4 separate regions of the Homo sapiens genome follow, and regions 1, 2 and 4 are each reported to be linked to region 3. Evidence: microRNA targets listed by miRTarBase, many of them from high-throughput screens and not tested one by one. Region 3 holds a microRNA gene; each other region holds the end of a gene's coding sequence.

Region 1 (3,000 bases), not on the chromosome of region 3:
TCCCCTGCTCTTGAAAACCCTCAATGGTCAAGAAGCTTTGTCAAATCCTCATGAGCCTTGCACAGTGCCAGGTGCTGTACCTAATGTAAGTGCCTCATTTTACTCTAATAAAAACTAAGTATTAGGCTGATCTACAGGAGGAAATGAGATTCACAGAGATTAAGGCAACAGTCAAAAGACACAGAACTAGTAGGCAACAGACCTGGAATTCGACCCTGTGTCAGGGTGGTTCCAAATGCAAGCTCTTTCTACTAAACTGCCAGCCTCCCAGGTGCCCAGAAGTGATCCTGGCCCTCCTCCTCTACCCTGATGTCCTGACCTCCTGGTGTGCTGACAGTGCTGGGTGAACAGAGAGCACCGCTGCCTGTGGAATCTGGCCCTGCGGAATACCGGCTCCCCACAGAACCAGGAGGCCCTTCAAGAAGGAAGGAAAAGAGGGGCCTGGGAAAGCCAGGAGTAGACGTGACAGACCCTGACGTCAGGAAACAGGCCAAGGGCATAAACACCCAACCCCTGGGGACATTCCAGCCAGCAAAATGTCCCTCTCTAAATTTTTAAAACCCCCCATCCCTGAGGGAGGCAGCGTAGAAACAGAGAAGAGAAGGCAACAGGAAGCTGCAGCCACTTCCTTTGAGAAGAGGTGGACAGTGAGCAAGAGTTTAGGGGGAAAGAAGCTGAAAAAGGACAGTACCGGTCCAGGGGTTGGAACAGCTGGAGGACTCCCTGGTACCACAGCACAAATGGGGCTGGGTGCCCCAGGAACAAGAACATACACACATACCCCACCTTCCACACACCTTTTTTCTGTAAACAGACCTCATTTCTCGGACCACAGAAGTGGACACATGGCTGAGCTGTTCCCTGCCTTGGGAACAAGCCAATCTGCACAGAAGCAGAAGCAGCACAGAGAGCAGAGGCAGGGGGACGGGAAACACATAGGGAAAAGACAGCAGGGGAGGCCTGAAGAGAGAAGGAACAATGGTGAGACAGGAGGAGGAAGGGAGGGAGTAGGGGAAGGAGAGAGAGAGAAAGAGGGAAACAGAGATAGAGTGCGCATGTGCTAGCTGACTGACCGTGGAGCCATGGATCTAGGTGTTCCTGAGGCCAGTTCCATGTCCCAAGCATGGTGATGTAAATTAATGCATTCTGCCTCTCGGCTTATGCTATTCGAAATTAGGCTGTATCATTCACAGTCCAAAGAGTTACTATTTCAGTTGTATATAAAGAACCTTAAAAATCTATAAAGGCACCTCCAAAATCACATCAAAGCTGGAAAAACTAAGGAAACCAAAGTTGGTTCTCTTCTTTCTTTTTTTGAGACGCAGGTCTTGCTCTGTCGTCCAGGCTGGCCTCGACTTCTCAGGCTCAAGCAACCCACCTCAGCCTCAGTAGCTGGGACTACAAGTGCACACCACCGTTTGACTAATGAAAAAAAAATTTTCTTGGAGTCTTTCTCAAAGAAGCTATTCAAATGAAAGTATATTTATTTTTATAAATGTTTCCTCCAGTAAGTTTATGTTTGACTGTACTTAAGAAACAGGAAAAAAAAAAAACCTGTAATTAAACTTGTGCCAAGATTAACCAACAGCCTCTACTGCTTGTTTCCCATTATTACAGGTTGGGTATCCCTTATCTGAAATGCTTGGGACCAGAAGTCTTTTAGACTTTGGTTTTTTTGTGTGTTTTGGAATATCTGTATTATATTTACTAGTCAAGTATCCCAAATCTGAAAATCCAAAACCTGAAAAGCTCTAATGAGCATTTTCCTCCAATGTCATGTCAGTGCTTGATATGGTTTTGCTCTGTGTCCCCACACAAATCTCATGTCAAATTGTAATCTTCGGTGTTGGAGGAGGGGCCTGGAGGGAGGTGACTGAAACATGGGGGCAGACTTCCCCCTTGCTATTCTGTGTTAGTGAGTTCTTGGAGATCTGGTGTTTGAAAGTGTGCAGCATCTGCCCCTTTGCCCTCCTCCTCTGGCTCTAGCCACGCAGGACATACCTGCTTCCGCTTCACCTTCTGCCACGATTGTAAGCTTCCCAGGGCCTCCACAGCCATGCTTCCTGTACCACCTGTAGAACTGTGAGTCAATTAAACCTCTTTTCTTTACTTATAAATTACCCAGTTTCAGGTAGTTCTTTATAGCAGTGCAAGAACAGATAAATACAGTGCTCAAACAGTTTTAGATTTTCGGATTTGGGATGCTCTCAACCTGCACCATTAGATTATACTCTCTTGGTATAAATTATTTAAAAACAAATCCCAAACTAATACATAAACAAGCCGAACAAACCTATCAGCATAAACTTATAAACACAAACACAGGCAATACACAGACACCAGGTAAAACAGGGATGGTATTTCTGGATGGTTTAATCATGAATGGCGGTAGGCAGTGTAAGAAAAAAGTTCCTAGAGCATGATAAACCTTGGTTTCTGGCACAGGATAAACCTTTCATTTCATGGTGTACATTTCACAATATTAAAAAAACCCCAGCCTGGTTTTCATGATTAACGCCGTGGGGAAAGGACAATGTTTCCAGGGAGCAACGACTCGCAAGCACACCCCTGGGGCTGTGCGGTGGCCGTCGGCGGGGCCAGCTTCAAAGTCCAACCCACAAGGCACAGGTTTTCAAATCTTTACCTCTGTGTACAAGAACGTACATGAACTTTAAAAACGTGTGTTTCCTCGTCTGTGTTTAACACCCTAACGATGATCAGTTTGGGGGAGACGTACCCCTCCCTAATCACAGGTAGGACCACTTCCCAAATCAATGAAACGACCGTCCTCTTTTGTGTCTTGACTTCAGGTGTCCGGCCGAACGACGGAGTCTTTTCCTTTCTTGTCGATGCAGTTTCTCAGCCTCCTGTTGCTTCTTCTGCTGTTCAGACTAAAAGAGAAAATGAAATGAGTAGAGGGAAAGAGAGAAAATTCTATACCTCTTTTCTGGTAACCGTCAGGCTGCCAACAGTACCACCACCAATCTCAGAACTGCTGCC
Region 2 (3,147 bases), not on the chromosome of region 3:
GCTGTTTTGATTTTAAAGATCATGTTTACCTCCATTTTTTATTTTAAAAAAACAAACATGGCTTTTCATTGTAGGGCTCCAACAAAAGAATCCTCTGAAGAGGAGTATGACTCTGGAGTTGAAGAAGAAGGATGGCCCCGCCAAGCAGATGCTGCAAACAGCTAAACTGTCATATTGCTGTCTTGTATATACAGCTTTTCCTTCTTTTGTTTAGGATCATAATTGTCTCTACAGTCTGATATTAAAGGCATTGGATCTATCTTGGATATCATACATGGTCAGAGAAGCCTTTAGGAGAAGAATCAGATCATGTATATAATTGTAACATCACATTGATTTTACGGAAGATGTTATATGGACTTTAATGACACAATGTTTAGAGATAAAATGTACATTATTTTGGTTCAGTTTTTTAAAAAAAATATGCTTTAACAAAATTCTTAGGAATTCTTTTAAGCAATGCAGGTATTGCGATAACTGTAGATTTTACAATAATGTTACTCTACAAATGGGAAAATAAATTCTTTAAAATTGAATATTGAGATACCATTCTTTAGTGTTACCTTTTTTACCCACATGTGTTTCTGAAAATATTGGAATTTTATTCATCTTAAAAATTGGACCAGGTAGGCCGGGCGTGGTGGCTCACGCCTGTAATCCCAGCACTTTGGGAGGCCAAGGCGGGTGGATCACGAGGTCAGGAGTTCAAGACCAGCCTGGCCAAGATGGTGAAACCCCATCTCTACTAAAAATATGAAAAATTAGCTGGGTGCCGTGGCAGGTGCCTGTAATCCCAGCTACTCGGGAGGCTGAGGCAGGAGAATCGCTTGAACTCGGAGGGCAGAGTTTACAGTGAGCTGAGGTTGTGCCACTGCACTCCAGCCTGGGCGACAAAGTGAGACTCCGTCTCAGGGCGAAAACAAAAAATTGGACCAGGTAGTTTTCAAGTAGTTAAACATTTCATTGAAAAATACCCTGAAGAACTATATTTTGATAATTGGTTTAGCTGTATTCCTAGTCTTATCTGCTAATGCATGACACTAACTTCCCAATTGGTTCTGTAAAAAAGGCCATTTTCTTACCAAGTTGTCTGATTTATTTACCATCTTTTTTTTTTTTTTTTTTTTAATTGAGCGGAGTCTCACGCTGTCCCAAGCTGAAGTGCAGTGGTGCGATCTTGGCTCACTGCAACCTCCGCCTCCCAGGTTCAAGCAATTTTCCTGCCTCAGCCTTCCAAGTAGCTGGGATTATAGGCACGCACCACCACACCTGGCTAATTTTTGTATTTTTAGTAGAGACAGGGTTTCACCCTGTTGGCCAGGCTAGTCTGTAACTCCTGACCTTGTGATCTGCTGGCCTCAGCCTCCCAAAGTGCTGGGATTGCAGGCGTAAGCCACCACACCCGGCCTTATTTACCATCTTTAATCCATTTTAGTACTATGGGTGAGTACATGGAATTGAAGTCTGGCTTAAATCTTCAGAAAGTTATATATCTATTTTATTTTATTTTTTTGAGACAGAGTCTCGCTGTGTCACCCAGGCTGGAGTACAGTGCCACAATCTTGGCTCACTGCAACCTCTGAGTCCCAGGTTCAAGCGATACTCATGCCTCAGCCTCCTGAGTAGCTGGGACTACAGGCGTGCACCACCACACCTGGCTAATTTTTTGTATTTTTAGTAGAGACGGGGTTTCGCCATGTTGCCCAGGCTGGTCTCTCCTGAGCTCAGGCAATCGGCCACCTTGGCCTCTGAAAGTGCTAGAATTACGGGCATGAGCCACCGCATCCAGCCAGAAAGATACATATCTAATTCTAGAAATAGCATGCAGTATCAGTCATAGTAACAGCCATGTGCTGACCTAAATAAAATTTCTTGATATTGTGTATTTAACCTGAAGTATTGAGCTAGTTTTTTTGTTTTGTTTTTTGGTGCTGAACATTTTGGTCTAATTCTTTGGCTTCTTAGAACATTTTAAAAAATCTATGTTTTGCTATCAGCCAAAGTAAATGTGTTCACACTAACATATAAGTTACTAACCTTCATTATACAGCAAAGCTAAAAAGTGGTGGGATATTTGGGGTCTTAATGAAAATTGTATCATTTAATTCCATAAATATTAAAATATTTGGGTACCTTTTAAGCTTTTTTTCTTTCCTTCTATAATGGTGGTACAAGTTCTATATTCATTCAGTTTAATCTCATTTGAAATTGTTTAAATCAGAGTACATGTAAATATTTGTGGGTTTTTTTTTTTGGTTTATAGACTCGAGCTTTCCTTTTACACAGTTTTTTTTAGGGAAAAACTAAAGCTATTAGGAAATTCTAAATCTTGTTGATGAAGAGTTGGGCTTTCTTTGATATAATTAATAAAAGGGATGTATGGTATTTATGGCTGGGTAGGACCAGAAATGCACTTTGTATTACAGAGTGTTAAGGCTGGTTGCTATAGTATGGAACAGAAACACCTCTCCTTGGTCTCCCTAGTAATGGTTCAAGTTCTTCCCAGGAAGTCTTACATATTATAACTTTGTTCATTATCTTTCCCTTATAGCATCATTTTCCTTTTTGTAGAGTGGAAATCAGACTAGCTGCTAAACATATTAAGGTTAATCCTCCAGAAATGTACTGGGGAGGCATTTTAGTCACAACAACTTACATTTGGCTTTGGAAGTTGTTAACAAAGCATAGTCGATGTTTTTAAATCAAACATAATTTGTATCTTGGAACTTACATTTTGACATTTGAATAAAACAAAAAGACTAAATGAAAGCCAACGTGGTGGTGTGTCCATACAGCAATGGTGCAGGAGCACTCTGCATTGACAACAACAAGCACAGCCAAACAGTGCCATTTTTAAAAGGGCACAGATGTCATATGAGCTGCTTCATTCTAGGGATTGATTAATCCTTGGCACTTCCATATCAGATAAATTCTAGCTGTAGATTCCACAGACAATGTCTGTTAAACATTTATCAAAAATCCTTACTTAAATGTCCCGCTTGACACTAGGGACACAGGCCAAGTTTTTCAGGAATCTTACTAGTCTTGTAGGGGAAACAAATACAAACTAAAGTGTATTTTAATAGTGGAAGTGAGATAGGTACCAGGTGTGGTGACATAGAAAGTGATGGCCTAGATAAGTCTGGA
Region 3 (3,000 bases):
ATGCCACCGAACTGTGCGCTTAAACATGGTTCCAATGGTAAATTTTTGGCCGGGCGCAGTGGCTCATGCCTGTAATCCCAGCACTGTGGGAGGCTGAGGCGGGCGAATCACTTGAGGTCAGGAGTTCGAGACCAGCCTGGCCAACATGGTGAAACCCAGACTCTACTAAATATATATATATATACAAAAATTAGCCAGACGTGGTGGCGGGCGCCTGTAATCCCAACTACTTGGGAGGCTGAGGCAGGAGAATCACCTGAACCTGGAAGGCGGAGGCTGCAGTGAGCCAAGATCATGCCACTATACCCCAGCCTGGGCGACAGAGGGAGACTCTGTCTTTTAAAAAAAAAAAAAAGGTAAATTTTCTGTTACATACATTTTATCACACACACACACACACACACACACGCACACACACACACAAAGAGGCAAGGGAGAAAGAACAGGCTTTGCAAAATGATTCTGCAAATGGCCAAATAGGAAGGATTTTCAGCTTTGTAGGCCGCATAGTCTCTGTTGCAACTACACAACTCTGCTCTTATAACACAAAAGCAACCACAGGTAATAAGATAAAAATGGGTGTGACCACGTCCCAATAAAACTATTAGTCAAAGCCGGCAGCGGACCACAGCAGGCCTGTGGACTGCAGTTTGCCAACTCCTAAGCGGTGTGGTTTGGCGTGTATGTTTATGAACAGAATGTCCCTGGAAAGTTGGTAACAGTGATGTCGCCAAAAAGGGGAACTGGGTGACCAGGCAGAGGAGGGAGAACCTTCATGTGTGGTCTTGGGTGCTTTCTATTTTGACCCTGTGAATGGGACCTATTCACCAAATTTGAAACAAACAAGAGAGAAAAAGAAAGCTTGAGGCCAGGCACGGTGGCTCACTGCCTGCAATCCCAGCACTTTGGGAGGCCGAGGCAGGCAGATCACGAGGTCAGGAGATCGAGACCATCCTGGTTAACGGTGAAACCCCGTCTCTACTAAAAATACAAAAAAATTAGCCAGGTGTGGTGGTAGACGCCTGTAGTCCCAGCTACTCGGGAGGCTGAGGCAGGAGAATGGCATGAACCCAGGAGGCAGAGCTTGCAGTGAACCGAGATCGAACCACTGCACTCCAGCCTGGGCAACAGAGCGATAAAAAAAACACCATGAGAAAAAGGAAGTTTGACAACTCTGCCTGTCAGGGCCTGGGGGTCAGAGACAGTTCCCTGGGCAGAGGCACTCAGGGGCACAAGGTGGTCGGTCTTAGAAAGATGCTCAGCAGTGAGCAGGAACAGACCCCAGAGGGGAGGCAGGAAGGCCAGGCCGGAGGCTAAGGGCCTCGCACACACAGCGCTGGCTGGACGGCTTCAAAGCCAGTCCGGGGGCCCCGGGAGGGGAGGAAAGGAGAGAGGAAGGGCTCGCCCCAGGACGCGAGGCTCACCCCAGCACCACGTTGGCGTAGAGTTCCCGCGCCGTCCTGGTCTCGCGCTTCCTGGAGATCTCCGCGTCGTACCAGAAGCCCCGCTCCTTGGGGTTGTCGGGGTTGTAGTTGAGCATGACCACCTGGCCCACCTCCAGGTCCTGCCACTTGATGATGGTGCGGGCGCGCGCTCGGACGTCCCTGGAGTTCATCTGGACCACGCCGTTCTCCGGGTAGCTGGGAGGAAAGCCCGGGCCTTAGACCCCGTGCTAAGACCAAGCCTCCTTCCCTCAATGGGAAACGAGCCGAGGTGGGACGGCCCCTCCCGACAGTGTGCAGAGGCCCCTCCCAACAGGCTTATATGCTGGTGTTGAGAACACACAGGTATATTAAGGCACATTCCAGGTACAAAATTGTTATGGGTTGCCCGTGTCCCCTGCAAAAAGAGATGTTCAAAGGCTGATCCCCAGTACCCACGAATAGGATTGTTTTTGGAAACAGGGTCTTTGTAGATAGAACCTTTGCAGATGAAATCATATTAAGATGAGATCACACTGCAGTAGGGTGGGCCCCAATCCAACAGGACTGGTGTCTTTAGAACAAGAGGAGAGGCCGGGCAAGGTGGCCCACGCCTGTAATCCCAGCACTTTGGGAGGCCGAAGCGGGAAGATCACCTGAGGTCAGGAGTTCAAGACCAGCCTGACCAACACGGTGAAACCCTGCCTCTACTAAAAATACAAAAATTAGCCAGGCATGGCCGGGCACGGTGGCTCATGCCTGTAATCCCAGCACTTTGGGAGGCTGAGGCAGGCAGATCATCTGAGGTCGGAAGTTGGAGACCAGCCAACATGGAGAAACCCCATCTCTACTAAAAATACAAAATTAGCCAGGCGTGGTGGCGCATGCCTGTAATCCCAGCTACTCGGGAGGCTGAGGCAGAATTGCTTGAACCCGGGAGGCAGAGGTTGCGGTGAGCCGAGATCGCGCCATTGACGCCAGCCTGGGCAACAAGAGTGAAACTCTGTCTCAAAAACAAAACAAAAACAAAAATTAGCTGGGCGCAGTGGTGCACGCCTGTAGTCCCAGCCACTTGGGAGGCTGAGGCAGGAGAATCGTTTGAACCCGGGAGATGGAGGGTGCAATGAGCCAAGATCACACCATTGCACTCCAGCCTGGGGGACAGAGTGAAACTGTCTCAAAAAAATAAAATAAGCTGGGCACAGTGGCTCACACCTGTAATCCCAACACTCTGGGAGGCTGAGGCGGGCGGAACACGAGGTCAGAAGTTTGAGACCAGCCTCACCTACATAGTGAAACCCCATCTCTTCTGAAAATACAAAAATTAGCCAGGCGTGGTGGCCACACACCTGTAATCCCAGCTACTTGGGAGGCTGAGGCAGGAGAATCGCTTGAACCTGGGAGGCGGAGGTTGCAGTGAGCTGAGACCACGCCATTGCACTCTAGCCTGAGTGACAGAGTAAGACTCTGTCTCGAAAAAATAAAATAAAAATAAAATAAAATAAAAATACAAACATTAGCTGGGTGTGGTGGCGGGCACCTGTAGTCCCAGCTACTCAGGAGGCTGAGGCAGGAGAAT
Region 4 (3,171 bases), not on the chromosome of region 3:
TACCCCACAAAACCTAGCAGACTCTTACCCGCAGGGCAGTTACAGTATCTGTTCAATAAATGAAGAACACATGAACTCATTCCAAAATAAATTAGTGTAAATCTTGACTGCAGGCGGCAATAGTGCATTTCACCCTTTATTGGTACCAGCTCCCTGCTGTATTGGGGCTTATGTACCATACAATTCGAGGTCACCTAACTTTCCCTGCTCTTACATCTGGGGTGAGCCCAGCTACCTCTGACCTCCAAAGGAAGACTGGTGCTCCCACTAGTTTTCCAGTGGGAACTCCAAAGACTAGGAATGGATACATGCAAAGCGCCAGACCAGGGGCAGAGTGGAGGTTCCCCCTCAAGGGTCTTTTCCTTTTTCTTTTTCTTTTTTTTTTTTTTTTTTGAGACAGAGTCTCGCTTTATCGCCCAGGCCGGAGTGCAATGGCGTGATCTCGGCTAACTGCAACCTCCACCTCCCGGGTTCAAATGATTCTCCTACCTCAGCCTCCTGAGCAGCTGGGATTACAGGTGTGAACCACCACACTCGGCTAATTATTTCACTTTTTTGTAGAGTCAGGGCCTGGCTACGATGCTCAAGCTGGTGTCAAACTCCCAGGCTCAAGTGATCCTCCCATCTTGGCCTTCCAAAGTCCTGAGCTTACAGACATGAGCCACCACACCCAGCCTACTGTTTTTAGTTGAGATGGAATCCCGGTATGCTGCCCAGGCTGGTCCTGAACTCCTGGGCTCAGGTGATCTGCCTCACCCTCCAGAATGGCGGGGACTACAGGTGTGCTCAGCAGCAGCTCAGTGCTTGCAGGGGCAGCTGGCGAAGCCTCTGGAGCTCCCGGCCCAACCTGGAGCCTGGTGAGCTCCTCCTCCGCCTCCTGGGGCTCAGTTTCAACTCCTCTTCCCAAGACGCTGGGTCTGACCTCACAGGTTGGCCATATACCATTCTCCCCTCACAGCTGGCTCCCCTTGTCCCAGCATTGAGGACCTGCCCTTTGTCTTTAGCACTGTCCCCTGCCTGCCTCTCCCAAGGGTGCGGACTCATTAGGGCAGGTACCGTGTGCCAGTTCATTTACCACTCTTATCATGGTCCCGAACGATACATCACACAAGCCGAGGCGGACTTTCCCCCAAAGGAATGCTTTATTGACAAATTACCCATTATTATAATAACTTTAAGGAAAAGATACATCGGTCAACACCCGCACAACCTGCCTTCTCACCACACCCCACAGGCCGATTTTAACCCTGGACGAAGGGCACCGAGCGCTGGGCTTCCCTGGCCCCTGCATCTCTGTCGTGTGTGGAGTGCCATCCCCAAGGGTGTCTGAACTGTCCGGGGACACGGCTGTCAGAGGACACTTGCTCTACCGAACAGGACACCTTGAGCTGAGCAGCCCTTCCCCTCCCGGGAGTGGCAGAGCCGGGCACACCACAGGCAGGCCCTCAGTGTCCTGCCAAGAGCCACTAAGGCACAGAGCTCCCCCTGCAGACCACGCCATCTGACATGCAGGGCCCCGGTGTGCGAGAGAGGCTGCTGGGGTGCGACTATTTAGTAACAGGAAGAGATCTTTGTAGCTCCTGAGAAAAAGACTGTAACGGCAATCCTGGCTGATGCCCACGCCCCACCCTCCACCTGACCTGTGGGGTCGTTTCATCCCAAGTACAGCAAGCAGGAGGGTTGGAGTCACTGACGAATGTGAGCCGGGCCAGGCCCATGCAAAGGCAGCACTGAGAAGGGGGGCACAGTTCTTTTAAAGGGTGCTAAAGACAGGGTTTTCCTTCTCTTGGCCCCTCCCATTCCCAGAGGCTCAAGAGCCCTTTAGGGCAGGGCATAGGAGCCAGCGGGAGCTGCCACGGTTGAGAAGAGAAGCAGGTTTTGTACACTGGGATGGAGTGTGCGTGACATAAAACACCTCAACTGGAAGAGGCTGCCACGCAGGCCAGGTGTAAAATTCCACACAATGCTCACAACCATTAAGGAACCCTCATCTATATACATATAAAAATTAGAAAGAAATAAAGCATAAGGCAATGTAAGGCTTGTATTTCAGCTTGAGTCCAAAGAAATAATATTCTATGAGGCTAAAGCTGCTTTGCCTAATTTAAACTTTTTGAAAAGTCCACTGCATTTAAAAAATAATGAATTTGCTTCCGTTAAAGCTAGATTCGCGTAACAATCAGGCAGCTGCTGAGGGTCAGTTTCCTTTCTGGGGGTCTCAGAAAATGGACAGTTTTCTCGTTCGGCATTTTGAGATAAAAAATTGCGTAACAGGTAGGACTTGCTGGGTGATTGCATTCCTTCTGTGAGTCAGGGAAGGAGGAGGAGGAAGAAGTCAGAAAATGCCACTTATTTTATGCTTAGAACTCTTCAATCCTTCAACATTCTGATGGGCTAACATGATTCCCAAAGGGAGCCTGGGCTTTGGCTCAATATTCTTTCAAACCCTCCGCCCTGTCCACTTCCTGCACCCCTAGGAAGGACAGCACAGTGATCTGTTTCATCTACAAACGTGAGTGTAAAACATCTGTGTACAAGCCTGTGTTCTTCAAATTCATGCAAACGCGGCAGCCACATCTCCGCGTGGATGGGCAGGACTGTCCTCAGGGCCGGCTCTGCTCATCCGCCCTGGCTGGCTGCTCCGCTGAACAGAGCTGCGGCTGTGATGCTGAGGCTGGGTTGCGTGTGCTCTGCAGCGGGTGAAGCAACCACAGGCTTAGAAAGGTGCGGGATCCGACAGGGGCTTGTCACCACTCCCCGCTGAGGAAGGGAGGTTGTCACTGCCGTTCTCTCTGTCACCCACAACCTTAGACTACAGGAGAGAAAAGATGAAGACAGAAAAACCTGAGACAGAGCACACAACACAAGGCAGATCCCAGGCCCATGCTCAATGCTCTACAAAAGCTTATGTAACACGAACACTGCTCAGCAGGGACAGGGAGCAAATCACGGACGGGCACCAGCCCCAACAGGTCTCCAGAGAACGATGCCAAATGAAGACAGTGAATGCCAAAAAGCTGCACACTGTATCGTTCCATTTACGTGACATTCTTGAAATGACACAATTATACAAAGGGAGAGTGGACTAGGGGTTGCCGGGGGTAGGGCGGGAGGAAGGTCAGCATGGCCAAGAAGGTACCAGGAAGGGCAGTGGGGACCAGGAAGGGCAGT

The links. The annotated mature microRNA hsa-miR-4747-5p reads AGGGAAGGAGGCUUGGUCUUAG and lies in region 3 at 1,673-1,694, opposite strand. An mRNA with a match to its seed (bases 2 to 7 or 8) in the 3' UTR can be bound and repressed. Matches are read on the target gene's strand: a 7mer-m8 pairs with bases 2 to 8, a 7mer-A1 pairs with bases 2 to 7 and ends in A, and an 8mer does both.
Region 1: miRTarBase lists NOL10 as a target of hsa-miR-4747-5p. The part of its 3' UTR that is shown has no 7-base or 8-base seed match.
Region 2: miRTarBase lists CLPX as a target of hsa-miR-4747-5p. Seed matches in the 3' UTR shown: 7mer-A1 at 1,045-1,051 and 7mer-A1 at 2,499-2,505.
Region 4: miRTarBase lists TPD52L2 as a target of hsa-miR-4747-5p. Seed matches in the 3' UTR shown: 7mer-m8 at 2,314-2,320.

Annotation. Positions count from the first base shown.
Region 1 is chr2:10,569,300-10,572,299 of GRCh38, forward strand. It overlaps NOL10 (nucleolar protein 10), which reads right to left. Exons shown (of 21, transcript NM_024894.4): 21 at 1,455-2,891. The coding sequence ends at 2,772. Among named protein-coding and RNA genes, the nearest start is that of NOL10, 120 kb to the right of the region's middle.
Region 2 is chr15:65,147,841-65,150,987 of GRCh38, reverse strand. CLPX (caseinolytic mitochondrial matrix peptidase chaperone subunit X) reads left to right here. Exons shown (of 14, transcript NM_006660.5): 14 at 75-2,769. The coding sequence ends at 165. Among named protein-coding and RNA genes, the nearest start is that of PDCD7, 16 kb to the right of the region's middle.
Region 3 is chr19:4,931,381-4,934,380 of GRCh38, reverse strand. MIR4747 (microRNA 4747) reads right to left here and starts at 1,694; the gene lies at 1,641-1,694. It overlaps UHRF1 (ubiquitin like with PHD and ring finger domains 1), which reads right to left. Exons shown (of 17, transcript NM_001048201.3): 5 at 1,425-1,640.
Region 4 is chr20:63,889,491-63,892,661 of GRCh38, reverse strand. It overlaps TPD52L2 (TPD52 like 2), which reads right to left. Exons shown (of 7, transcript NM_003288.4): 7 at 1,124-2,812. The coding sequence ends at 2,717. Among named protein-coding and RNA genes, the nearest start is that of DNAJC5, 4.0 kb to the left of the region's middle.